7 linked regions of the Homo sapiens genome follow. The protein of the gene in region 1 purifies or fractionates together with the protein of each later gene. This does not show direct contact. Each region holds a gene or a part of one and is shown in the gene's direction. Other genes may lie near its edges.

Region 1 (4,273 bases):
ACTTGTGGTATGGTGTGACTGTGGGAGAGAAGATTTGGGGGCTGCAAGGGAGCTTAGCTAACCAAGCCTGGAGAGGGGAAAAGAGACAGAACAGTGTCACACAGCTTGGAGTAATGGGGCCAGCCATTCCCTTTCCACAGTATTCAGTGCCTCACTTTGGCTCTCTTCTGCTCAGCAATGGCCAAGAGCTGTGTGCCCAGATGGGATCTGCTGGCGTATGAGGGAGCATGGTGTGACCATCCTGGGGCAGATAGACCTTATCTCTCCTCCCTGCAATCAGAGATTTAAAGAAAGGAAGAAGGAGGCTGACATTAAGGAGCACAGGAACCGGGTGGGTAGCCTTTGAGAGTTCCAGCAGCCCCTTCACTAATCAGAGAACTGGAAAGACCGGGGTGACATTGACATAAGGGACTCAGAGGTGGAACTAAAGACTGTTCTTTTCTGGCATCCGTGCCTGCCTTCTGTTCCAAACTAATGCCCTCCCATCTTCTTTTGAGGACCACATTTCTGGGCATTCTCTTTTTCAAAACTTTCCCTGTTTCAACCCTCAGTGCCTCTGGAGCCATGTATCTCCCAGGGCTTCTTGTTGGGAGACACATACACCCCATTCTGCCGTCTGTAATTTATGCTAAGAGGGATAGAGCAGGGCTGTTGAGAGCAACTGCTTTGGTATCGGACAAAACCTTTCAGGCCTGGCTCTGCTACATAACAGTTGCTTCACTTCTCCAAGTTTCCCCTTCCTGTGCTGTAAAATGGGGATAATAATAGTACCACCCTCACTTGGTGGTTTTTGAGGGCCGAAAGAGATCATATTAAGCATGGAGGAAGCTATCCATAAAAAGGCCACTGTTGTCATAGTGTACTAGCGGGCGTAGCCCCGGCTTCTCTCCACGACTTGGGAGCTCCCTTCTGGCAGGGGCAGCCACTGGATTGCCTCATCTTTCTCCCCATTGCCCGGATGCCAAGGGCAGGACGGGGGAATGGTGTGTCTTCGGGGATGAGAGAGAGGCATCAGGAGGGAAAGTGTCAGCGTACGTCCTCTAGGCTTGAAGAAGGAGAGAGGCCCTGACTCCAGATTTTAAAGTGGGCTTCAGAGCCCCTACCTTTCCTAGGCCTGGGGCTCAGAAGTCATGGGTGGTAGGCCCGACTCGGGGAGAGTCGGACCTTGGGGACCTCGGGGACCTCGGGCAGATCGGGGACCCCGGGCAGATCACTTTCAGCCTGGGGCCTCGGTTTCCTCGCGCGTGTCTGGGAGGTCTCGCGGCCTGCTTCTCGGATTGCTAGGAGCCAGCGCAGGCAGATGCCGGTTCCGGGGCTTGGAGAACGTGGCTCGGTGGCACAGAGCCGCCGGGCGAGGCGGGGGCAGGGAGGCGGGCGACGGGATTGGCTGGAGGCGGGGCAGCGGGGCTCGGGGATTGGCCGCAACCGAGAGGGCTGGGCAGAACTATAAGAGGCGCGGAGGGGGCGTGCAGCAGAGTGCGTTCCTCGTCTGCCAGCCGGCTTGGCTAGCGCGCGGCGGCCGTGGCTAAGGCTGCTACGAAGCGAGCTTGGGAGGAGCAGCGGCCTGCGGGGCAGAGGAGCATCCCGTCTACCAGGTCCCAAGCGGCGTGGCCCGCGGGTCATGGCCAAAGGAGAAGGCGCCGAGAGCGGCTCCGCGGCGGGGCTGCTACCCACCAGCATCCTCCAAAGCACTGAACGCCCGGCCCAGGTGAAGGTGAGGGCCCGGCACCCCGCGTGGAGGGCGAGGGGAGGGAGGAGGCGGAAATGGGGGATCAGGGGCGTCCCGGGGTCGGCCTGGTCAGGGGACCATTGGGATAGCCAGGGACAGGAAGCCTACGAGCCAGAGAGGACCTGGGGGTGCCCTGGGACAGGGGGTGACGGAGAAAAGCTGTGGGCGCCCTCGCCCCCCTTTGCTCACCCGCACTCCACGCTCTGCGGAGAGGCTCTGCCGGCAGCCCCATGTGATTCCCCGCTCTGCCTAGCCGGTTTCCATTCTTCCGTGTTGAGCGGCTGGGGCTTGCCGCCCCAAACCCCAGAGATGACCCCAGAAATCTGGGAAACTCCCCTTGGTTCCCCATCTCTCATCCCCTACCTCCCACTCCACCCACCTACTCTTGCGCCTCAACTCTGCTGTTAGGGCCGCTCAAGTTCATTCATAAGAACAAGAGCTCTGCTCTTAAAGGAGCCGCGTCCCTCAGGCATTTGTCTGAATGTGGATGTTCGCGCGGGAACGGTGCTTTGCGCATCGAGACCATCGACCACATCCCCAGCCCTGGGGACTTATTGAAGGACCAAATAAAATGAGGCGGCCCCCTAGGAAAGGATCTCAGGCAATAGATACCTTCGTGGGAGGTGACTGCCTTTTCCTTTTAATTTTATTAACTGATCTTTGGAAGGAGCTGGGTGAGCAATTATGCTGTTACTATGTATGAGTAATATCTACTTTCCCTGGGCAACCCAACCTCCCTAGTGCCCCACCCGGAGAGGGATCAGGCCTGAACCTGGAGGCCTTTCCTCCCGTCTCCAAGGTCCTCTAGGAGCTCAGGGGTGGAGGGCGATGGGTCGGGAAGCTGGAGAGTAGGACAGTTCCTGGGTCCGCCTGAAGCTCTGGCTGCCTATAGTGGTCAGGGATGCTCTGGGATAGGTGGAACAGCTGCGCCTGCAGCCAGCTGGGCCGGGCCCCCGTAGCTCTCTAGAGCTCTCACCAGGAGTAGGCAGGTGGATCCTGTCTCTGAGGCAGGGTGGGAGCCTGGGCTGGGCTCAGGCAGCTCTTGGCAGCAAGCGGATTTTCAGGTTGTGGCAGCTGGTGCCGGGTGGGGACAGGTCGGCTGCTGGAGCATGCTCCCCCTGAAACCTGGAAAGGAGCAGTGCCTGAGGCCTTGGGAGGAGTTCTTTAGGGATGGTGGGCTGATAAGTTTCCTTAGAATCTCCAGGAGGGAGGTGGCTTAGGGGCTACTTTCACACAAGTATGGATTCCCCTTTTCCATGTTCCTAAGAATGGAGAACACCTTTCTTTTGTATAAAGTGGGATCTCGGAGATCGAGACCATGCTGGCTAACATGGTGAAACCCCGTCTCTACTTAAAATACAAAAAATTAGCTGGGTGTGGTAGTGGGTGCCTGTAGTCCCAGCTACTTGGGAGGCTGAGGCAGGAGAATGGCGTGAACCCAGGAGGCGGAGCTTGCAGTGAGCCGAGATGGCACCACTGCACTCCAGCCTGGGCAACAGAGCAAGACTCTGTCTCAAAAAAAAAAAAAAAAAAAAAAAAAAAAAAGGTGGGATCTCCTGGATAGGAACAGGTCAAAGCAGAGTTGTTTGTTCTGGTAGAGCTGGCCAGAGGGATGGTCCTTCCTGTGGAACCTTCTTGGATGGAGGCCAGAACCTTGGGCCTTTCATCTTTTCCTCCTCTTCCCAGAAAGAACCGAAAAAGAAGAAACAACAGTTGTCTGTTTGCAACAAGCTTTGCTATGCACTTGGGGGAGCCCCCTACCAGGTGACGGGCTGTGCCCTGGGTTTCTTCCTTCAGATCTACCTATTGGATGTGGCTCAGGTGAGTGGTCTAAGCCTTCGAGGGCTCCTTCAGCATCCTGAGGTGGGAAAGACTATGCACCCCTGGGTCAGTTCGCTCAGTTTTCCCCATCTGTGAAATGGGACCCCAAATCACTACTTTGCTGCCTCTGAGTCAGTGAGCAAGAAATGAGAAGACCCTGGAAAGTATCCAGTAAAGGAGTGTCTCCACTCCAGGAGTCTTTGCTGGAAAGGTCTGGCAACTCCTCCTTGCCTGGCATGAGCAACAGAGCCTGAAGGGGTAGGCGGTAGAATGAGGGAGAATGGGGCCTGCTGGGGATGCTGTTCTTAGAAGAGACTGGCACACTGTGTTCCTGGCTGGGAGATAGTCAGCTGGCTTGACTCAGGGGTTGGTGGCTGTTGCCAGGCTTGTGGATGAGATGCATCCCACCTTTACCTGAGGAGCAGAAGGGCACTTAGGTGCCAGGCTAAGTTAGAATGCCCCAGTACACAGGGTCTTTGACTGGGAGGGGTACTTAGGGTGAAACAGGACTATTCTGTGCATTGAGAAGCCTTGGCCAGAAGCCTGGCATCCTGAGAATTCACCCTGTCTGGATGGGAGAGTGGGAGGCAGAATAGCCATGACTACCGGGGCTCCTGCACCAGCTGTCTTCTCTGTGTAGCATCTAACTTGGCAAGCATCGCATCTTAGTTGTATCCATTTACAGAGGGGGAACACTGAACTCCAGAAGGAACAAAAAACTTC
Region 2 (3,500 bases), on another chromosome or scaffold:
CCTAAGGAAAGTGGTTTGGCCAATTCTTGGGTAAACTGAGACTATTTGCAAGGTTATATTAAGTCACTTTTAGTGTAAATGAACTTTCTAATCAAATATACTTTACTGGTAAAAATACGTCAAATTTTTCATTTTAAGAACTTGCTTAATGCTAGACAATAATCAGGAAAGAATCTGTAGTGTGCCAATTATTAGTTTTACAAATTAATATTTTTCTTATTCTTAGAATCTCATATCTATCCGGGGTTTGTAAATCTGATAAAATTACAGCAGTATATACTTACCCTAATAATAATATTGAATGTAAACTGGTTCACATGGAGTAGAGGTGGAGGGGAGGGAGAAACATCCAGACTACACTTGTTACTAAACTAAATGATGAAAAATACTCATTTGAATACCCAATTTTTTGTTCCCTTAAAACATAAAAATAGCTAGTACCCCATGCCACATACTTTTCAATTGGAATAAGAACAGTAACTTATAAATTTTTTAAATTGTGTTTTATTTTCCCTAGAATATTCACAGGATCTACAAGGCTAGATGGAAATGCCATTGGTAAGTATGGGCATTTATTCTACTTCGGAACTGGCTTGGGGCTAAAATAACTTTAATGTTGAGCTAAAAAAAAAATGTATTTATATTACAGTGGATTTTGTCCGTTGGCTCTGTGCTGTGTCTATGGATGAATTACTTTCCACGACACACCCAAGAATGTTTAGTCTACAAAAAATAGTAGAAATATCATATTACAACATGGGAAGAATAAGATTACAGTGGTCTCGAATTTGGGAAGTTATTGGAGATCATTTTAATAAGGTATTTGAATAACTATGGTGTTTGTTTACATTTGTAGTATATTTTTTGTTTAGAATGTCCTTGTAATCAAATTGAGCCTTTTTCCCTTCCAAGCAATTATTTATTACTTTTTAATATTAAATTAGAAAACCCTGTGAATGGTGTTTTTCTTTTTAGAAATGATTGCTCTGGGCTTTAAGAATTTGATTTAAAATATCTGTTTTTCTTGTTGAGAAATAGTTTTAGCATACTTAATGCCTTTATGGAAAATCTTAGGATTTACCTATCTATGCTATTCTATACTTTTTCTAAAACAAAAAATAAAGAATTGTAGATTTTTACTGCTGATATTAATTAGCATCGTTTATTTCTGTCGCCATTACAGGTTGGGTGTAATCCTAATGAAGATGTAGCTATTTTTGCAGTAGACTCCTTGAGGCAGTTGTCAATGAAGTTCTTAGAGAAAGGGGAGCTTGCTAACTTCAGATTCCAGAAGGATTTCTTAAGACCTTTTGAACATATAATGAAACGGAACAGGTACTATATTTGTTGAATTGCTTAATAGAAGGAAAATCTTGTTGTTTTCCACAGCAGGGAGAAAAACAGAAGAAAGGGGGAAAAACTGATGAGTTTTATCGGTTTGCATATCCAAGCAATTATATTAATATTTTTAGGTCTCCAACAATTCGAGATATGGTTGTACGGTGTATAGCACAGATGGTTAATTCTCAAGCTGCTAACATTCGATCTGGATGGAAGAACATTTTCTCTGTATTTCATCTAGCTGCATCTGATCAAGATGAAAGCATAGTGGAACTTGCATTCCAAACAACCGGGCACATTGTCAGTGAGTATTCTCTTAGCTGTGTTCAAGTAAAAGGAAAAAAAAAAAGCAACCTTAACGTGTTCAGAAGATGATTCAAGTAACAATAAGATTATGGCCTTTAAGTTTACCAAGCTTTGTCTACAGAACCAGAGTAAATAAAAACAATTAAATTACTATTATAGTTAACATTTATTGAGTATTTACCATATGGCAAATACTGTGTGCACTTTTCACGTAATTTCTTTAATCTTCACAGTTAAACATTATTGTCCATCCCTTTTTTCAAAATAGATTAGGAAACTCAGCCCCAGAAAGGTTAAGCAGTCTATGTAAGGTCACAGAACTAGTGATGGAGATGGTCTTGAGACCCATGGAGTATTAAAGCAAAGCCTTTATTTTTGACCAGTAAGTACATTGCACAGCCTTCTTCAAGGAGGAGTCCCCTTAAGTTCAAGGGGGACTGACTGAAATACTAAGATTATAAGTTAAGCCTATATGGAAGATGACAATGATGACCATCAACATCAAGAATCATGGCATCATCATAGCTATCATTTATTGCGTGCTTGCTTAAGTATTACACTAAGCACTTCACTTATATTATTTTACGTAGTGCTTACAGCTATCTGTGTATATTATTATTATTTCCATTTTATATCAAGAAACCGAGATACAGAGAGGTTAAGTAATTTTGTATATTCATTCAACCAAAGTTGAATCAGTACCTACCGTGTACCAGTCACTGTATTAGGTGCTATGTTTATAATGTAAACAAAACAGACAAGTTTTACTATTCTCACCACTCAGGGCAGTCAGTTAAGTGGTAAAGATAGTCTTGAACTTCGTATCTGTTGGATGTCAGAACCTGTAACAACCTTTAAGAGGAAGTGCATTACATCTAGATGTTGGTGTATTTTTGGTACAGCTAAGAATAATTGAAAAATTATAGTAATATATATTTTTCTCTATTTTAGCCCTTGTATTTGAAAAACACTTTCCAGCGACCATTGATTCTTTCCAGGATGCAGTGAAGTGTTTGTCTGAATTTGCGTGCAATGCAGCTTTCCCAGACACAAGTATGGAAGCAATTCGACTTATTCGCCATTGTGCAAAATATGTGTCTGATAGACCTCAGGTATAGCGTCATTTAGTAAACAAAATTTTGCAGAGTATTCTTTCCAATTTGAAATCTTAAGTTTGTTTGGGAATTGAGGGTATATGAAGCATTTATTTTTCAGTAATTTGAAAAATAATCTGAGCAGCCTGATTCCAAGTTAGGATGGTTAGTGATTATAACTAACCATTATTGAAAGTGTCAGGTATTTTTCTGAGTGTTTTTCATTAACTTGTATTAACTTGTTTAATCTTCTAATGGCTTTATGGGGTAGATAGTGTTATAGCCCCATACAGACAAAGAAACTGAGGCACAGAGAAATTTTAAAATGTGCCCATAGTTTCAGGGCTAGTAAAGTAGAACTAGGGTTTGAGCCCCAGCCTGTGTTTCTAACCATTCCCTACAGTGCATCTTGTCTGTCTGTGCTGTGTAATACTGAAGCTGACTGACTATGGATGAGAATAGGCTTAAGCTCTAAAGTAAAAGGTTGAATTGAAAATCTAGCTGCCATATTTAACTTGTATATTTGAATCTATCTTTGTAACTGTCATAAGAGAAAGTGATGTATCGTAGATTTGGTAATAAGATTTTATTCCGTACTACCATGGACCGATCAGGTGCTTGGTACTTTTTAGATACGTCAACTCATTTCACCTTCATACTTCACCAGTGTGGTTAATGTGGCTGTCTGGTATCATAACCATTTAAGTGATAAAAATGGAAACCTGAATTAACCTGGCTAATAATGCAGAAAGCTGGTGA
Region 3 (3,500 bases), on another chromosome or scaffold:
TAACTAAGGACAACTGAAAAAAAAACAACTCTCTTTTTTCATAGCTGGTAGGAATGTTGCCTAAAAGTGGAAAAGTATGTTCATGATCAATTAGATAAATACATTATTAAGGAAAAATTGCCTGAGGGTTATTTCAGATGACCTCTGATGCCACTGTCAGAAAGAAAATGCTGAGAGCTGTTAGTCTGAGTTGATTCTAGATTAGTATGGCACTTCTTATGTTTCTAAATAGTTCATCTACAAAATGGCAGTGTACATCACTTCCTGTTCTTTCACAACTGGCTCTTTCACTGGATTCTCTTTTAATGACTTAATTTTTGGCATTCTGATATCTGATTTGTTAATTTGGTTATAATTCTCATGTTTTATAGGTGGAAGAATTTCTGAGAATCAGCTGGATTTAAAGGCTTTTAATAGTTTAAGATTATCTTGACAGTAACAAAACATTGCTTCCAAACTAAAGGATAGTATTGCAAACAAATTTAAACTCTGAGAGGTTTTAAAGAAGTACAGCAATGTACAGAATCAGAAGTATGAGGGCACTGAATAGAAAATAATTATCGTATTTTTTATAATGTCGATTTTGGGAGAAGTGAGGATATGGCAAGTAATTGAATGGGTGTTGATATAAAATAAACTTTCTGTATAACAAGGTGTATACATGATATTTGGGCCCATGTTACGATGCCATTTTAACAGTAAGAAAGCAACTCTTTAGTTACAGGATACTAGAAAGACTGGATGCTCATAACTAACCATGAGTATGATTTATTTTAATAATTTGCCAGTTTTTTTTTTTTTTTTTTTTTTTTTTTTTTTTTGAGACGGAGTCTTGCTCTGTCGCCCAGGCTGGAGTGCAGTGGCACGATCTCGGCTCACTGCAAGTTCCACCTCCTGGGTTTACGCCAGTCTCCTGCCTCAGCCTCCTGAGTAGCTGGGACTACAGGCGCCTGCCACCAAGCCCAGCTAATTTTTTGTATTTTTAGTAGAGACGGGGTTTCACTGTGTTAGCCAGGATGGTCTCGATCTCCTGACCTTGTGATCTGCCCGCCTCAGCCTCCCAGAGTGCTGGGATTACAGGCTTGAGCCACCGTGCCCGGCAAATTTGCCAGTTCTTAATAGACATGAATATTTAGTAAATCCAGAAGATATCTAGGGGTCAGTTGTTGGCATTGAAATTAGAGTTGAGATCAATCTGTCTTTCGTGTCTTTCACCTGGAAATAAAGTCTGTGTTTTGCATTTGGCTTATTTGTATATTAAAATCACTTAATTTTTCATTTGTATCTCTGTTTTGTTTTCACTAGTCTCTGTTACTTATAACAATTAATTGCACTCATACTAATTTAATCTTTTAGAAATGAGGAGCATTTTTGGTACATATTAGTTGAGGGTTGCTGTTTGGATGAGGATCATATGTGAACGAATCCCTTCAAAAAAGTGTTATTTCTGGGCTGGGCAAAGTGGCTCAGGCCTGTAATGCCAGCGCTTTGGGAGGCTGAGGTGGGAGGATTGCTTGAGGCCAGGAGTTCAAGAGCAGCCTGGGCAACATAGCATGACCCTGTCTCTACAAAAACAAATTTTTTTTTTAATTAGCATGGGCTAGGCATGGTGGTTTATGCCTATAATCCCAGCATGCTGGGGGCTGAGGCTGGAGGATCACTTGAGCCTAGGAGTTTGAGGCCAGCCTGGGCAACATAGTGAGACCCTGTCTCCAAAAGATAAAAAATGAAAATATTAGTGGGGCGTGATGGTGCGTGCTTGTTCTAACTACCTGGCAGGCTGAGGTGGGAGGATTGCTTGAGCCCAGAAGATGGAGGCTGCAGTGAGTTGTGATCATGCCACCGCACTCTAGCCTGGGTGACAGAGTGAGACTGTCTAAAAACAAAAGCCTGTGTGGTGGCTCAAGCCTGTAATTCCAGCACTTTGGGAGGCCAAGGTGGGCGGATCACCTGAGGTCAAGAGTTCGAAACCAGCCTGGCCAACAAAGAGAGACCCTGTCTCTACAAAAATAAAACAAATTAGCTAGGCATGGTGGTGGGTGCCTGTAACCCCAGCTACTGGGGAGGCTGAGGCAGGAGAATCACTTGAACCCAGGAGGTGGAGGTTACAGTGAGTTGAGATGGCGCCACTGCCTGACAGCCTGGGCGGCAGAACAAGACTCCATCTCAAAACAAAACGAAACAAATAAAAAAGTTTTATTTCTCTAGTAAAGTTTCGCATAAAATTGAGATGTTCATTAAGCAGAGTACCAACATATGCTCACCTGCCTTTAGGTATGTGTACTTTTTTTTTTTTTTTTTTTTTTGAATTTGAGACAGGGTTTTTGCTGTGTCGCCCAGGTTGGAATGCAATAGCGTGATCACAGCGTATTGCAGCCTCAGCCTCCCGGGTTCAAGTGCTCTTCCCACATCAACCTCCCAAGTAGCTGGCACTACAGGTACATGCCACCACGTCTGGCTAATTTTTTTTTTTTTTTTTTTTTTTTGTAGAGATGGGGTTTTGCCATGTTGCCCAGGCTGGTCTTGAACTCCTCAGCTCCAGCTATCTACCTGCCTTGGCCTCCCAAAGTGCTGAGATTACAGACATGAGCCACTGCACCCGGCCCGATTTCCGTACTTACTATTAATGGTTGGATTTTAAAAATTATTCTTCAGGTTTTCCTATTATAAAATATGAGAGGATACAACCTGTATTAGTTCATTCCATTCTTAAAGTATTTTAGTTTTTAGTAATAAAAATTGATGTTTAATTTCATTAAAGATGTCTCATACCTTCTAAAAATCTACATGAATTAAAAAGTTGTGTGGAGGGACTAGCAGCAATTATTTTCAGCTGGGACGTTTCTGTCATCATATGGTAACAGTTATTTCTGTATCAGTCTATTTGTGCCAGAAGCAGACTTTTTGTTCTAAAATACAGTCTAAGGCTATACCTTTTTGATGACAAAATTAAGTATCCTATAAAAGTTGGAAGAGTTTTTAAAATGTTAAGTACCTGGCATGTAAATAAAGTAAGTAAAAGTATAAATTATTAAGTGCCTTGCATAATAGATATACTGCAGCCTCCTAAAAATGCCAGTGACCGTTATGCTGTAGGTTGTTATTTAAATATAATGGCACTTAATTACCGTCTAATTTATCTTTAAAGCTGAGAAGGGGCTAATTTTTCCTTTTGATAAAATTATTTGATCAAATAGTTTTATGCAGGTTTAGAAGTAGATGAATTACTGTAACATTTAGAAAGACATTCAAAGTTTAGTTTCTGAGAAATATTATCAAATAATAGGATGGAACAAAACTTTCTGGTTTGCAGCTACCAATAATAAAATTGGCACTTACTATATATTAATGTTGGCTGGGCGTGGTGGCTCACGCCTGTAATCCTAGCACTTTGGGAGACCGTAGATCACTTTAGGTCAGGAGTTCAAGACCAGCCTGGCCAATGTGGAGGAAACCCGTCTCTACTAAAAATACAAAAAATTAGCTGGGCGTGGTGGCGT
Region 4 (3,500 bases), on another chromosome or scaffold:
TTTTGAGCTTGGTTTCAGTGTCTCTTTTATACTTGAACAGTGTCCTTAAATTAGATTCCATGATCAGTGTGAGTGCCTATGAAAAATGACTTGTAGGGCTCGTCCCTATAATCCCAGCTACTCAGTAGGCTGAGGTGGGAGGATCAGTTGAGACCTCCAGGAGTTTGAGACCAGCCTGAGCAACATAGTGAGATGCCATCTCTTAAAAAAAAGAGAAATGAAAAGTGACTTGTTAGGTAACAAATCTACAGGACTCTTATGAAAAGACCCAAACGAATTTTTCCAAAACCATTTTGTTTCAATGACCATCCATTTAAACTGCCAGTTAATTGAAGGATAATTTGCTATAACATACCTGCTGGACTCATAACTTATAGACAGTAAAGTGATGGTGATACTATCCTTTGTCATAGGCTGGTGTGCATTGTAGCCTCTCATGGTCACCACATGTACTGATTGTTCTTGGTTATTTATTTTTTGGGGACAGGTAGGCAGTGTTTTAAGATGTTGAATTGCAAGTATATTTTACCTCTCATACCTAAATCCATATAATAAAGGAGAAGAGAGAATGCATTTAGAGGATATTGGGTTTAGGTAAAATAGTGCTGCATTTCATAAGGTAGCTGTATTTCTGAAATACCTGGTCTGAAATAGGTCAGGTCCTCTTCATTCTGAGATAGATAGGAAGCAACACTAGATTTCAAATGATAAATATTGGATTACCTCCCCAGTTTGACTGTTATGTTGGTGTGTCATCGGTGGGGGAATGTCACTTACCTCTTTTTATTTTCATCATTTCTTTTTGTTCAGGTGAGCTATTATAGGGTATTTAATATGTATTGGGGTATTCAAACTAGTCATAGCGTAACTACAACAGTTAAGTTCTCTGCATTATTTTTAGTCTCCAAGTCCTCTTGTCTGCTGTTGATGATTTGCTAAATACACTTCTAGAGAGTGAAGATTCTTATCTTATGGGAGTTTATATTGGAAGTGTAATGCCGAACGACAGTGAATGGGAAAAGATGAGGCAGTCTCTTCCTATGCAGGTATTTTGGAAATTGAAGAGTACATATCTCATTCTGAAGTTTGGATTTCATGCAAGCTTGAATATTTTTATTTTGGGGAAGAAAAACATAAATAAAATGAGTATTTTGCTTTGCTTTGATGTCTTTGTATGCTCATATACTGGATGTTTGCTTTTTGCAAGACACCATTTGACAGTGGCAGTGGGCATGGTACAAAGACTTAGGACCTAGTTCTGTACTTAAGGAGTCTTAAAGAAATACACATGTTGATAATTTCCTGTAAAAGAAAACAAACTTCTAGGTTTCTGTGGTTTTGGTAATAAATATTCTCACAACTTCATTTTTGTTCAGTCTCAATTGCTTAGGTAATAAATAATTTTGTATATAACGTATTCTTTTCACAGTGGTTACATAGACCTCTTTTAGAGGGAAGATTGAGTTTGAATTATGAATGTTTCAAAACAGATTTTAAGGAACAGGACATAAAGACACTTCCCAGCCATTTGTGTACTTCAGCATTATTGAGCAAAATGGTCTTAATTGCACTGAGAAAGGAAACAGTCTTAGAAAATAATGAGCTTGAGAAAATAAGTAAGTATATATGAGTATTTACATATAACATAATGCATGAATGAATATAATTTTGAAATAATCTTGATTATACTGCAGTTTAAATCTTTAATTCAAGAATCTTCAGCTTTCTTTTTCCTATTTTAATGATGAGAACCTTGAAGTTACTTAAGTGGTGAATGTGAAATTGCAAATTAGATACGAATATATTGGAATCTTGCTATAATCTTGTTAACTGTGGATCGTAATTTGGTGTTAGCTACTCAGGCTGTCATGACATCAATGTAAACAGATCCTGTGGCACATACCCTAAAGAAAATGGGTGAGGCTTTGGTGTTTTATCAAGGATTCAGAATTTTCTGTTGATTAAAAAAAAATTGATACCTGATAATTTTACATATTTATGGGGTACATGTGATATTTTGATATATACATAGAATGTGTAGTGATCAAATCAGGCTAAGCAGGATATCCATCACCTCAAACATTTATCATTTCTTTGTGTTGAGAACATTTCAAATCTTCTAGTTATTTTGCAATATAAATCATTGTTAACTATGGTCATCCTACTGTGTTATTGAATACTAGGTCATATATCTTCTCTCTCACTGTATTTTGGTACCCATTCACCGACCTCTCTTCATCCCCTGCTCTCCCTGACCCTTCTCAGGGTAACCATCAGTCTACTATACTATTCTATCTTCATGAGATCCACTTTTTTAGCTCCCATATACAAATTAGAACATGTGATGTTTGTCTTTCCGTGCATGGTTTATTTCATTTAGCATGATGATGTCCAGTTTCATCCATGTTGCTGCAAATGACAGTATTTCATTCCTTTTTTTTTTTTTTTTTTTTTTGAGACAGAGTCTCGCTCTGTTGCCCAGGCTTGAGTGCAGTGGCGCAATCTCGGCTCACCACAACCTCTGCTTCCCAGGTTCAAGTGATTCTCCTGCCTCAACCTCCCAAGTAGATGGGACTACAGGCGCACACCACCATGCCCAGCTAATTTTTGTATTTTTGGTAGAGACGGGGTTTCACTATGTTGGCCAGGCTGGTCTTGAACTCCTGACCTCGTGATCCGCCCGTCTCAGCCTCCCAAAGTGCTGGGATTATAGAAGTGAGCTACCGTGCCTGGCCTCATTCTTTTTTTAATGGCTGAATAGTATTCCATTGTGCATATGTACCACATTTTATATATCCATTCATTCACTGATGGACACTTAGGTTGATTTCATATCTCAGCTATTGTGAATAGTGCTGCAGCAAATATAGGGGTGCAGATATACCTTTGATATACTGGTTTTCTAAATATTCAATGGGATTGCTGGATTGTGTGATAGTTCTATTTTTAGTTTTTTGAAATACTTCCATATCGTTTTCCAAAATGGCTGTACTAATTTGCATTCCTACCAATAGTATATAAGTTCCTATTTCTCTGCATTCTTGCCAGCATTTGTTATTTTTTGTCTTTGTTTTTTTAGAGATGGGGTGTTACTATGTTGCCCAGACAGGTCTTTATCCTGGGCTCAAGCAATCCTCTTGCCTCAGCCTCCCAAAGTGCTGCGATTACAAGCAGTGCCACCATTCCCAGCTTATTTCTTACCTTTTTGACAAGAGGCATTCTAACTGGGGTTTTGATTTGCATTTCCCTGATGATTACTAATATTGAGCATGGGATTTTTTTTTCCTTTCTTGCCGTTGAGTTGTTTGAGTTCCTTATATATTCCTTATGTTAGCCCCTTGTTGGATGAATAGTTTGCAAATATTTTCTCCCATTCTACAGATTGTCTCTTCACTTTGTTGATTGTTTCTTTTGCTGTGCAGAAAGCTTTTAGTTTAACATAGTCCTATTTGCCTGTTTTTGTTGCCTTCGCTTTTGAAGTCTTAGCCATAAAAATATTT
Region 5 (3,500 bases), on another chromosome or scaffold:
GTTATCCGCCTGCCTTGGCCTCCCAAAGTGCTGGGATTACAGGCGTCAGCCACCATGCCCAGCCTAGAGGTCATGTTTTTGATGTCCTCTTGGAATATTCGCAACAAGGTGTTTTCACTTTATTAAGCTTCCTTGGATTCAGTGTTTTCTTTGAACCTCTTTTTTGCTGAAAATCTGTTGAGGGTCTGGGGAACACATTTTGGGAAATGCTGAGCATATCTGATTATCCTGATCTGCACCATAACCAAGGGATAGCTCTATGACTTATTAGAGTAAGACCATTTTGCCTTCACTCAATAAATTCTAGTTTTTTGTTTTTTTTTTTTTTCATTTCTTTTGGTATGTTTGTTTTTACCGTATAGCATTGGCTCTCAAAGTGTGGTCCCTGGACAGGCAGCATCAGCATCATCTTGGAACTTGTTAGAGATAAAAATTCTCAGCTCCATTGGAGCAACTCAAATCGGAAATCCTGGAGGTGCTGTAGCCCCAGCTACTTGGGAGGTTGAGAGGTGGGAGGATCGCTTGAGCCCAGGAGGTTGAGGCTGCAGTGGTCCATGATTGTGCTACTGCTTTCCAGCCTGGGTGACAGAGTGAGACCCTGTGTCAAAAAAAAAAGTTTGGGCACAGAACCCAGCATTTGTGTTTTAACGAGTCCTTTAGGTGATTCCTATGTTTACTAAAGTTTGAAAACCATGGCCATGGCTGGGCTTGGTGGCTCACACCTGGAATCCCAGCACTTTAGGAGGCCGAGGAGGATGGATCACCTGAGGTCAGGAGTTCAAGACCAGCCTGGCCAACATGGTGAAACCCCGTGTCAACTAAAAATACAAAAAAATTAGCTGGGTGTGGTGGTGGGCACCTGTAATCCCAGCTACTTTGGGAGGCAGAGGCAGGAGAATCGCTTGAACCTGGGAGGCGGAGGTTGCAGTGAGCTGAGATTGCGCCATTGCACTCCAGCCTGGGTAACAAGAACGAAACTCTGTCTCAAAAAAAAAAAAAAAAGAAAATCATGGCCATATAGATTGGGTCTCCCTTTCTGTCCACTTTTACTTCCTATTTCTACCACTTCACCCAACTTCTCATTTGCTGCTTCTGACCTGCTTATGCCTAGTAAGATACCCAAGCTTGTAAACTTGCTATTTGTGAGCGTCTCAGAGAGTCTCTTGTGTGTTAATGCTTCAATGTATGAGTTTTATGGCATCCTCGACGGTTTTTCTGGTCACTTTCCCAGCAGAGCCCTCTAGTTAGAAAAGGCAGCCATGTGATACCGATCTTTCCAGTCACAGGCCTCTAGTGCAGCAGTCAGTGATGAAGGGCTCAGATGGGCTGTGCCACTTACAGGCTGTGTGACCTGCTTCAAGTTACTTCACCTCTCTGAGCCTGTTTCTTTGCTTTGAACATGGAGATAGCAGTAGTACTTCCCTGATAGGTTGGAGTAAATGTAACGCATTGTCTGGGTATGGTAAGCTCACAGTGTGTGTTAGCTGTTATTGTCATTGTCTTAGCCACAACCTGTTTCTGGCCCCAGTCATTCTTTTTCCCCAGTTACTGAAATAGCCCCAAATCACATGGACCAATGCAGTGGTCAGGGCCCTGGGGAAACTGCGTCCCTGTACCTCATTCATTTCTCTTCCATCATTCAGGTGCCTGAAGTGTGAGGAATGGTATGGGCCTCCTGCTCTCAGGTTCTTCCTACACCCAGTATAAGTCTGTCTTACACTGCAGGTTAAATTTCCTCCTCCTCAGAAGCTCCTCCCTTTTGTTTGCGTGCTTCACTGTGTCATGCAGCACTTGTCACAGGTTGGCTTTCCAACATTATTGAGCACTCTTTTTTTTTTTTTGAGATGGAGTCTCGCTCTGTCTCCTGGGCTGGAGTGCAGTGGCGCCATCTCTGCTCACTGCAACCTCCACTTTCTGGGTTCAAGCGATTCTCTTTGCAGCCTCAATCTCCCAGGCTTAGGTGATCCTCCCACCTTAGCCTCCTGAGTAACTGGGATTACAGACACGTGCCACCATGCCCAGGTAATTTTTGTATTTTTAGGAGAGACGGGGTTTCACCGTGTTGGCCAGGCTGGTCTTGAACTCCTGACCTGACCTCAAGTTATCCTCCCACCTTGGCCTCCCAAAGTGCTGGGATTACAGGCGTGAGCCACTGCCCCCAGCCATATTGAGCACTCTTGTTCAACCAAGAGTTGAACTCTTTCTGCCCAGAGTTAGAGTGTATCTGTTTCACTCCAGAGTTAGGGTGTATCTGTTTCACTCTGACTGGCTGGCTTGGTTTCCCATTACTTGGTTTCTTCATTTAAAAATGGGCTTAATCCGGGTGCGATGGCTCACGCCTGTAATCCTAGCACTTTGGGAGGCTGAGGCAGGTGGATCACAAGGTCACAAGTTTGAGACCAGCATGGCCAACGTGGTGAAACCCTGTCTCTACTAAAAATACAAAAATTAACTGGGCGTGGTGGTGCGCACCTTTAGTCTCAGCTACTCATGTGGCTGAGGCAGGAGAATCACTTGAACCTGGGAGGCGGAGGTTGCGGTGAGCCGAGATCGCACTACTGCACTCCAGCCGGGGCGATAGAGTGAGACTCCGTCTGAAAAATAAAAGGCGGGGGGGCCTTAATAACACTGCCCACCTTACATGGATTAAATGAGTGAATGTGTATGAATGATCTAGAGCAGGGTCTGGCATCTTGTAAGCACTAAGAGCTAGGGTGTTATTAGTCCTCTCTTCTTCTTCATGTGTTCTGAATAGGTATTATGCCTTCTTAACCCTGCACTCTACATGTATCTCCCTCTCTTTCCATTTTTCCAGAGCCTACTAATCTGATAGGCCAAGCTTATGTGTCCTTCAGACTTTCAGAAACACTCCAGTTATAGGTGTTCTTCCCTTTTCTGGTCCCTCATAGTACTTCAGTGTTGCACTGTTTTTTAAACCGTTTATTAGAATGTATGTGAAGAAAGGTACGCCTCCTAATGGAACAGCTCACTGAATCATCACATGTTAAACACCAGTATAACCAGCACCCAGATCAAGAAGTAGAACCATTCCAGCACTCCTGAACCTCCTCTTGATGGCATGTGAGGTTTCGAGGCCACTTTTATTTTCTTAGTTTCGTTCATTTAGCAAATGTCTACCCAAAGCTTTTCTGTACCAGGCATTTTCCTAGAGTCCTGTTTTGTTGTTGCTTTTTCCTCTTGGGGAGGAAGGTCTTAAATATATGGGGAGTGTCCAGTGGGCTGAGATCATGTCTGGGCAGAATACCTGACTCCAGCGGCTTACCAAGTGATTTTTATTGACCGCTGTCTGTGTAATCTCTGGTTTCAGATCTTCCAGAGGGAGCAGTGAAGGGGCTCTGCAAATTGTTCTGCTTGACTCTGCATCGATATAGGTGAGTCCCAGCCAAAGGCCCCATATGTGGAGCACTTTGTACAGAGAGGGGATTTAGAGTAGTGGTTAGAGCCCAGATTAGAGCCAGACTGCCTGGTGCCAAATCTGG
Region 6 (3,974 bases), on another chromosome or scaffold:
ATGTGGCAGATTCTGTACTGTGTGTTTTTGTTTGTTTGTTTTTTTGAGACAGGGTCTCACTCTGTGGCACAATGATCATGGTTCACTGCAGCCTCGGCCTTCTGAGCTCAAGTGATCCTCCCGCCTCTGCCTCCGCCTCCTGAGTAGCTGGGACTACAGATGTGCGACACAGCACCTGGCAAATTTTTAAGTATTTTCTTCAGACTGAAACATCATTGTGTTAAAGATAAAAAAGTAAAAAATATTCTTGTAGAGATAGGATCTCACTGTTGTCCAGATTGGTCTCAAATTTTTGAGCTCAAGCCATCCTCCTGCCTTGGCCTCCCAAAGTGCTGGCATTACAGGGTGAGTCACCATGCCTAGTCTGTACTGTTTTCCTGGCAATGTTATCTCATTCAATCTTCGTGAATAACCCTAAGGTAGATATGATACCAATTTTTCAGGTGAAAAAAACTAATCGGCAGGATGAAACTTCGTAAACAGCCTGTGGCTCCAAAAGCTTCTGGAAGGCTCAAGCTACCCATGTGCATCTTTGAGCCTCAGTTTCCCCATCTTTAAAATGAGGGGTTTGGAATAGATGTCTGTTCTCTGGGGCAGGATGCAGAGGAAAGAGCTGTCTGCGAATGGGCAAGAGAGAAGGTGGGTAAATACAGTTAAACCACAGTGACCGAGGGCCCAGCACAACGGGGGTGGGTGCGGTTACAAATGCCGTTAAGATTCCCGCCAAGGCGGAGGACGGGGGTGTCAGAGCCGAGCGAGGCCTGTGGGCGAGAATAGGCCTGACAGCCATTCTCCGACCTGCGTGGGCGCTGCAGGCGCAGGCCAGAGGCCAAGGGAGAGGCGATCCCTGGGGCTCTGCCCGGGTCTCAGGACGGCACCTCACCCGCCCGAGTCCTGCTCCACAGGATTCTCCGGGTAAGCTAGGGAAGGAAGAGGCGCGGCCTCCTGAGCCCGCATCTCAGAGCGCCACGTCCCTCCTGGCTCAGCCTCCCACCAGGCTCCACAGCTTCGGCCCTCCTCACCGCCCGCCTCCAGGCTCCCCGGCGCGGCCTTGTCCCTGCTCCCGCCAATCGGCGTCGTCAGCAATCGCGAACCGGACCAATCAGCGGCCGCAGAGTGTGGGAACTGTCGCCATGGCAGCCAGGAGGCGGGCGCGCGCGGCGGGAGGAGGGGCAGAGCGGAGCGGTGGGCCGGGGGCTGGAGGACAGGTTTGTGCGCTGGACGCAAGCACCAGGCGCAGCCTCGCTCGCCGAGACCCGGCCAGGTAAGGCCGGTGGCCGCGCGGTAGGTGCGGAGCAGCGCGGCGGGAGATTAGGGGTGGGGGAGTCCGGAGATAAGGCTCCGGTCTTCGCCTGCCTTGCCAGAGCAGAGAGGATGGTGGGGGCCGTGCTGTGGGCGGGGCACCGGCGGGGAGGGGGCTCCCAGCGCGAGCCGGAGGCGCTGGGTTCCCTCTGCTCCACTCGCAGCTGGGCACCCGAGCTTTCTTCGGGGTCGAGGAGGGTGGCTGGCTCTTGGCGGGGAGCAGGAGAGGGTAGGTGCCAAACCGAGACCCTGGCGGGGTCCCTTCGGGTTTGGGCAGGTCGATGGGCAAGGGGGTGCCCACTAGTGAGGAGGGACACCCACCAATTCCAGGCGATGCTCCCCTGTGCCGCTCAGCAAAGCTAGGCCCGGGGATCCTGCTCTTCTCCGGTCTGGTTAAGCCAGCAACCTCTGACACTTAGGAGAAAGTTAGTGTAAGTCGTGATATGCTTTTCACTTAAGTGACAAATTAGGTACGAGATGAACCCTTTTGGTTTTAGGAGATGAGAAACAGTATTTCCTTGTTGCACCTGCTAAGTGGCAACTCAGTGAGCAAATATGGTTATTGTGGTTGGTGTTTGCAACGGTCTTAGATGACAGTTATTTTACAGTATCAAATGGCTGGGAGAGGGAGGGAAAGAAGGAGAGAGAGAGAGAGAATATGAGGGAATGAGAATGAACGGGAACCATTATGATTTTTGAGAGACAGAACCTCTTGAAATTCTATGTCTGCTAAACTTCTAAATTGAATAATGTACATTTTATGCAATTGAATAAGCTAGTGCTACCATTTAAGCCTGCTACTAAGGCTCTGTTAAATCCGTGGACGAATATGAACACTAAAAGATATTACCTTGGTTTAAAAATAGGGGAGGTTAAATGCAAATATTTCTGATAGTGAATTTTGTTTGAGGGAGATTGTGGACTTTCCCTATGGGAAAGTTAAAGAATTGATGAGATAGATGCTTTAAGGAATGTTTTTGTTTTTTGAAACTTGAATAAGTTCAACAAATGTTGAACAAATATTTCAACAAATCTTCTTCAGCTAATAGGGTCAAAAATTAAAATTCTGGAAATTTAGAATTAGAAATGAAATCTCAAATAATGTCACTCTCCTAATTAGGATGAACATGGAAACTTCTATTTCTCATCGTGGTCTTCAAGCTTTCCATGATCTCATCTACCTTTGTAGTAGGGGGTCAAATTTTTTTTTTAACTAGACAATTTTAGAAACTTAAAGGAGGCAAAAATTTATTTCTGTCTCCGTGTGTTTACTCATGCTCTTCTCTATCCAAATTTTACCCATCTTTTTTTTTTTTTTTTTTTTTTTGAGATGGAGTCTCACTCTGTCACCCAGGCTGGAGTGCAATGGCCCGATCTCAGCTCACTGCAGCCTCCGCCTCCCGGGTTCAAGGGATTCTCCTACCTCAGCCCATCGAGTAGCTGGGATTACAGGGACCCACCACCACAGCCAGCTAATTTTTTGTATTTTTATTAGAGACGAAGTTTCACCATGTTGGCCAGGCTGGTCTCGAACTCCTGACCTCAGGTGATCCACTTGCCTTGGCCTCCCAAAGTGCTGAGATTACAGGTGTGAGCCACCGTGCCTGGACGACCCATGTTCTAAGAGTCGAATCTGTCTATGTTGTGTTTACCTTTCTTTGCTCTCCCAAGGTACATATTGTTCATATCACGTATTTTGTATATATTCTTTCAGCATGCTTTTTGCCAAGTTGGTTTGCGCTCTGTGAATAACAGTTGAGATAAAATGCACAATTAAGACAATTAAGGTACTTTTCAAGACACAACTAATTATGGGCACTAATATCAATAACATCAATTCAGATGTCTTTTTTGTTTTGGGATATGTTATTAATCTCTGAACACATACTAAACTAATTTTGCATTACTTAGAATAATATGTAAATTACTTTCCACTTTCTAAGGACCCTTTTGAAGGCTGGGTTCTACAAAATACCCTTTTGAGTACTGGGTAGCTGGCAGAAGCAAGTGCAGGATTTAAAAATGTATTGAAAATAATCCTTTAGGCCGGGCATGGTGGCTAATGCCTGTAATCCCAGCACTTTGGGAGGCTGAGGCGGGTGGATCACTTGAGTCCAGGAGTTCAAGACCAGCCTGGCCAACATGGTGAAACCCCGTCTTTACTAAAAATACAAAAATTAGCCAGACGTAGTGGCGGGCATCTGTAATCTCAACTACTCAGGAGGCTGGAGCAGGGGAATCGCTTGAACCTGGAGGCGGAGGTTGCAGTGAGCCGAGATCGCGCTATTGCACTCCAGCCTGGGCAACTAGAGTGAAACTACGTCTCAAAAACAAAACAAAAAACAGGCTACTAACAATTTCAAATAATTTATTCAAGGAAAAACTTCAATCACTTTCATTATTTCCAATCAAAAATTTTTTTTACAACCATGATGTGGTGAAAAGTATACTTAGTTAGAATTTCATGGCCAGATTCCAGTACGGGCTCTGCCAAACGAACTTGGCCAAGTCAGTTAACTTCCTTCTGTATTTATAACCTTTTATAAAAGTAGGGCTGAATTAGATTACAGTAGTCCTCCTTTATCCTAGAGGGATATGTTCCAAGGGTCCCAATGGATGCCTGAAACTACAGGTAGTACCAACCCTTATATACGCTATGTTTTTTGCTATAC
Region 7 (4,296 bases), on another chromosome or scaffold:
GTGGTTGATACCTGTAATCCCAGCATTTTGAAAGGCTGAGGCAGGAGGATTTCTTGAGCCCAGGAGTTCAAGACCCGACTGGGCAACGTAATGAGACCAAAAAATGAAACAGAACAAAACAACAATAACGAAAACCACACAAGAAAAGAAAGAAACAAAAAACCAGTTAGTGGCTTGTGTGCCTAACTCTAGGTAAAACGGAGAGGTGACGAAAGTTTGTATGAGAACAAATAGGATTCTTTAGGACAGACGAATGGGTTTTGGGAGAACAAACACGAGATAAGAAAGGGTTTTTTATTTTTTTTGAGACGGAGTCTGTTGCCCAGGCTATAGTGCAGTGGTGTGATCTCGGCTAACTGCAACCTGTGCCTCCCGGGTTCAAGCGATTCTTCTGCCTCAGTCTCCCGAGTTGCCGGGATTACAGGCGCGCGCCACCACGCCCGGCTAGTTTTTGTATCTTTAGTAGAGACGGAGTTTCACCATGTTGGTCAGGCTGGTCTCGAACTCCTGACTTTGTGATCTGCCCGCCTTGGCCTCCCAAAGTGTTGGGATTACAGGTGTGAGCCACTGCGCCCGGCCGATAGTTTTTTAAAAATGTAGGTGCTAGTGGTCTTACTGTCTTCTTCATGGACATGAAATTATTCTCATATAATGAGAATTAAATATGATCCTTCATGTAAAGAGTTTAGAATAATGTCAGAAACAAAGCAAGCAATAAATTATCATTTAGTTGATAAGAATCATTCCAATTCATCTGGCGAGTGCAACACACACACACACTGTATTTGTGTATGGAATAACTGTTCAAGAACACACACACAGTATGTGTGTATGAAATAACTCTTCAAGAACAAAGGGGAAACCGTTATAGGGCATGAAAGGGGAAACCGTTATAGGGCATGGAAGGGGAATTAGGACAAGGTGTGAGTGGAAAGAGAAACATCCCACCGCACACGCTTAAAAAAGCCGTTTAATTTAAAAATAGGTAATACAGCCATACAGAGAAGACATTAAAAGATCTACACAGAAAATTTTCGCTCCCAATCCATTCCCTACTCACAGTCCTACATACGTTACTTTTATTTTCCTTTTTTTTGGAAATGCACTGGCCCCCTACTCTCTCACGAAGGCTGAACTCTCTCTACATTCTTCTGCACCTGTTTTTTGTGCATACTCTTTCGTTGTCAAATATTTCCCTCCAACTGTTGTTGTGTATGAAATAAATACACACATATAAGCTAACCAGCCCCACTTGCCCGCACCACCTACACGCCCGTCCCCGCCCTCCCTCAGGCCCACGTGCTCCGAGGGCCGCCTTCGCAGGTTGTTTCTGGCGATGCCTGTCTGAAGGCCTCAGACTGAGGCCCCGCCCACTCTCCCTCTCCTCTGCCCTTTGGACGCGCGCCTCGGTTCCGAACGCAGCGGACGGCGCCTCAGGCAGCGCGGCGGACAGCCCGTCCTCCGGCGCGCCGCGAGCCTCGGAGGACCCTAGCGACGGTCGTGGCGTAAGACCGGGGGGACGCGGCGGTAGCGGCGGCCGTTGCGATTGATTGCGCTGGTTGCCTGCGGCGTCCACTTCCTTGGCCGCCCTTGCTACACTGGCTGATTGTTGTGCAGCCGGCGCCATGTCTGTGAGCGAGATCTTCGTGGAGCTGCAGGGCTTTTTGGCTGCCGAGCAGGACATCCGAGAGGCGAGCCCCCTCCCTTCCCCATTCCCTTTGCCTTTCCATGCCTAGTTGGGCCACTTCGCCCGGCCCTCCTCTGTCGCTCAGTCTCGGGCGGTGGGGACGCCTCCGAGGGTGGGTTGCTTCCCCTCTAGCTTTAGGTTAGGCACTCCCCGCCCCCGCCCAAAATTTTGCTGCTCTGTCCTGATTCCCCGTGTTCGAGTCTCAGCTTCTCAGCATCACTTGCCTCGTTTGTGTCAGTTTTCCTTCTTTTCAGCACTTGTTTATATCGAAGGCTCGATTAGCACCTGGTCTTCAGCGAATGAGCGTTTCGTGTATTTTTGTTGGTGTCTTAAAAGCACATGTGATCTGCTTAAAACTCTCCTGTGATTTCCTATGCCACACAGGATAAAAAATCAGACTCTACTGTGGCTCACATGGTTTCTCTTCAATCTCGTTTATGCTCTCTGTCTTTGTGTATGATGTTCACTTTACCTCTTCTAGTGCCCCAAATAGCTTCCTGCCTGTTTGCTTTTCCTGGAATTTGCTTCTTTCCCGTTCTTTTCCTGATTGTCTCGTATTTATCTCATTGGCGTCACAGTCTAAGCGATCTATTTCCTGTTATGTTTTCTAGTAGCACATTAACTTTTTTTAATGTGTGTAATATTGATTATTTTAAAAAAATCTTCTCCCTCATTGTATGTTAAACCGCCAGAGGGAAGGGATTGTGTGCTTGGTTCCCCGGTATTTACACAGTGCCTCGCACATAAGTATGCTCAGTGAATATTTTAAAAATGAATTAGAGGCGGGGAGCGGCGCCTCATGCCTGTAATTCCAGCATTTTGGGAGGCCGAGGCGGCCAGATCACCTGAGGTAAGGAGTTTGAGACCAGCCTGGCCAACATGGGGAAACCCTGTCTCTACTAAAAATATAAAAGAACATTAACTGGGCATGGTTGCGCACACCTGTAATCCCAGCTACTCGGGAGGCTGAAGCAGGAGAATGGCGTGAACCCGGGAGGCGGAGGTTGCGGTGAGCTGAGATCGCGCCACTGCACTCCAGCCTGGGTGACAGAGCGAGACTCCGTCTCAAAAAAAAAAAAAAAAAGAAAAAAGAATTAGAAATACCCGACTCTTGTGTTGCATTTAACTCTTCATTTTGCAAGTTGCGTTCACACACGTCATCCATTATAATGTCCCAATTGAATACTTGGGTTTAATGGGTGGCTATTATTCTTTAAAGGGTATCTGAGGAATCTAAGGCTTTTTAGTGACTTTTTGAAGTCTTACAGAGGAAATAAGTGGAAAAGTCAGGATTCAAACTTGGTTATGATAGATCACATAAGCTATCTAATGTGTTTTGTGTGAGTGTATGACAATGATTCTGTTGAGTATCTGATTTTTATTTTTAATTCTCTCTAGGAAATCAGAAAAGTTGTACAGAGTTTAGAACAAACAGCTCGAGAGATTTTAACTCTACTGCAAGGGGTCCATCAGGGTGCTGGGTTTCAGGACAGTAAGTTCTTTGTTTTGTATCCAATTATCAGTCTCTTATTTAGAGGGAGAGTTTCTATCCAGAAGACATTTTATAATGAAAAATGGCTATCATGCTTTATGGTGAGTAAAAATTGAAGAAGTAGGTGATTTGATAATTTTGGTTGATTTTTCTTCCACTTCCACACAGTATGGTTTAAACAGAGATGTTTTCTATTGCGAGGGCATTCTACTGATGATAATTACAATTGCTTAACCCATTTCCTGTTTAGAAAAAAAAAGTGCAGCTCTCTGCCAGCACAGTATTCTCAGGGTAAGCGGGAAAAGGGTTTATTATTATTTTTTTAATTTTTTTTTTTTCTGAGACGGAGTTTCACTCTTGTTGCCCAGGCTGGAGTGCAGTGGTGCCATCTCAGCTCACTGCAACCTCCGCCTCCTGGGTTCAAGCAATTCTCCTGCCTCAGCCTCCTGAGTAGCTGGTGTTACAGGTGCCCGCCATCACGCCCAGCTACTTTTTTTTTTTTTGGTATTTTTATTAGAGATGGGGTTTCACTTTGTTGGCCAGGCTGGTCTTGCACTCCTGACCTCAGATGATCCGCCTGGCTGGGCCTCTCAAAGTGCTGGGATTACAGGCGTGAGCCACTGCACCTGGCCCAAGGGTTTGTAACTCTTTTGTGTTATCTAGTGACTTTTATTTGGCCCTTTGTGTGTGTGTGTGTGTATGTGTGTATGTGTGTATATGCACCTGTGTGTATTTGAATCCAGCCTTTCAGTGATTGAATACCTTTTAATATGAGATTAACAGTATAAAATGTTCTCAAATTAATGTGTTTATAATCAGCCTCTTGAATGAAAATAAAATATGTCAAGTTTAGACATGGAACCTTCATTGTAAGGTATTGCCAGCACAGCTAAAGGAGCTGAAGTATATTTTCAGATACAAGAATGATATAATAATGCATTTACACGTGCCAGAGGCAAGTGATTTTTCTTAATGATACGGAGTTGGTCATCCTGATTGTGAATACTTGGTAAAGGCTTTTTTCTGCCAAATATGGGAGGAAGAAGCAATCCAATTTTAGGCATCCTCTGAGGAGTGAACAGGAATAGCAGCTGGTGTGCATCTCCTTAAGGATGAC

The links.
Region 2: the proteins of MFSD2A (region 1) and ARFGEF1 purify together in Homo sapiens (affinity purification with mass spectrometry; one large-scale study listed by BioGRID and IntAct). This does not show direct contact.
Region 3: the proteins of MFSD2A (region 1) and TAOK1 purify together in Homo sapiens (affinity purification with mass spectrometry; one large-scale study listed by BioGRID and IntAct). This does not show direct contact.
Region 4: the proteins of MFSD2A (region 1) and LTN1 purify together in Homo sapiens (affinity purification with mass spectrometry; one large-scale study listed by BioGRID and IntAct). This does not show direct contact.
Region 5: the proteins of MFSD2A (region 1) and GCN1 purify together in Homo sapiens (affinity purification with mass spectrometry; one large-scale study listed by BioGRID and IntAct). This does not show direct contact.
Region 6: the proteins of MFSD2A (region 1) and NUCB2 fractionate together in Homo sapiens (co-fractionation; one large-scale study listed by BioGRID). This does not show direct contact.
Region 7: the proteins of MFSD2A (region 1) and TSN purify together in Homo sapiens (affinity purification with mass spectrometry; one large-scale study listed by BioGRID and IntAct). This does not show direct contact.

Annotation. Positions count from the first base shown.
Region 1 is NC_000001.11:39,953,672-39,957,944, forward strand, and holds the start of MFSD2A (sodium-dependent lysophosphatidylcholine symporter 1), read left to right. Parts: upstream 1-1,473; 5' UTR 1,474-1,621; coding exon 1,622-1,714; intron 1,715-3,415; coding exon 3,416-3,550; intron 3,551-4,273. UniProt on the Homo sapiens protein: Sodium-dependent lysophosphatidylcholine (LPC) symporter, which plays an essential role for blood-brain barrier formation and function. Specifically expressed in endothelium of the blood-brain barrier of micro-vessels and transports LPC into the brain.
Region 2 is NC_000008.11:67,225,282-67,228,781, reverse strand, and holds part of ARFGEF1 (brefeldin A-inhibited guanine nucleotide-exchange protein 1), read left to right. Parts: intron 1-517; coding exon 518-558; intron 559-649; coding exon 650-819; intron 820-1,183; coding exon 1,184-1,335; intron 1,336-1,472; coding exon 1,473-1,645; intron 1,646-2,598; coding exon 2,599-2,759; intron 2,760-3,500. UniProt on the Homo sapiens protein: Promotes guanine-nucleotide exchange on ARF1 and ARF3. Promotes the activation of ARF1/ARF3 through replacement of GDP with GTP. Involved in vesicular trafficking.
Region 3 is NC_000017.11:29,393,363-29,396,862, forward strand, and holds part of TAOK1 (serine/threonine-protein kinase TAO1), read left to right. Parts: intron 1-3,500. UniProt on the Homo sapiens protein: Serine/threonine-protein kinase involved in various processes such as p38/MAPK14 stress-activated MAPK cascade, DNA damage response and regulation of cytoskeleton stability. Phosphorylates MAP2K3, MAP2K6 and MARK2.
Region 4 is NC_000021.9:28,954,878-28,958,377, reverse strand, and holds part of LTN1 (E3 ubiquitin-protein ligase listerin), read left to right. Parts: intron 1-901; coding exon 902-1,046; intron 1,047-1,429; coding exon 1,430-1,616; intron 1,617-3,500.
Region 5 is NC_000012.12:120,184,716-120,188,215, reverse strand, and holds part of GCN1 (stalled ribosome sensor GCN1), read left to right. Parts: intron 1-3,328; coding exon 3,329-3,392; intron 3,393-3,500. UniProt on the Homo sapiens protein: Ribosome collision sensor that plays a key role in the RNF14-RNF25 translation quality control pathway, a pathway that takes place when a ribosome has stalled during translation, and which promotes ubiquitination and degradation of translation factors on stalled ribosomes.
Region 6 is NC_000011.10:17,275,565-17,279,538, forward strand, and holds the start of NUCB2 (nucleobindin-2 isoform 1 preproprotein), read left to right. Parts: upstream 1-1,174; 5' UTR 1,175-1,264; exon of another isoform or gene 1,265-1,288; intron 1,289-1,458; exon of another isoform or gene 1,459-1,733; intron 1,734-3,974. UniProt on the Homo sapiens protein: Calcium-binding protein which may have a role in calcium homeostasis. Acts as a non-receptor guanine nucleotide exchange factor which binds to and activates guanine nucleotide-binding protein (G-protein) alpha subunit GNAI3.
Region 7 is NC_000002.12:121,754,155-121,758,450, forward strand, and holds the start of TSN (translin), read left to right. Parts: upstream 1-1,496; 5' UTR 1,497-1,625; coding exon 1,626-1,691; exon of another isoform or gene 1,692-1,799; intron 1,800-3,085; coding exon 3,086-3,179; intron 3,180-4,296. UniProt on the Homo sapiens protein: DNA-binding protein that specifically recognizes consensus sequences at the breakpoint junctions in chromosomal translocations, mostly involving immunoglobulin (Ig)/T-cell receptor gene segments.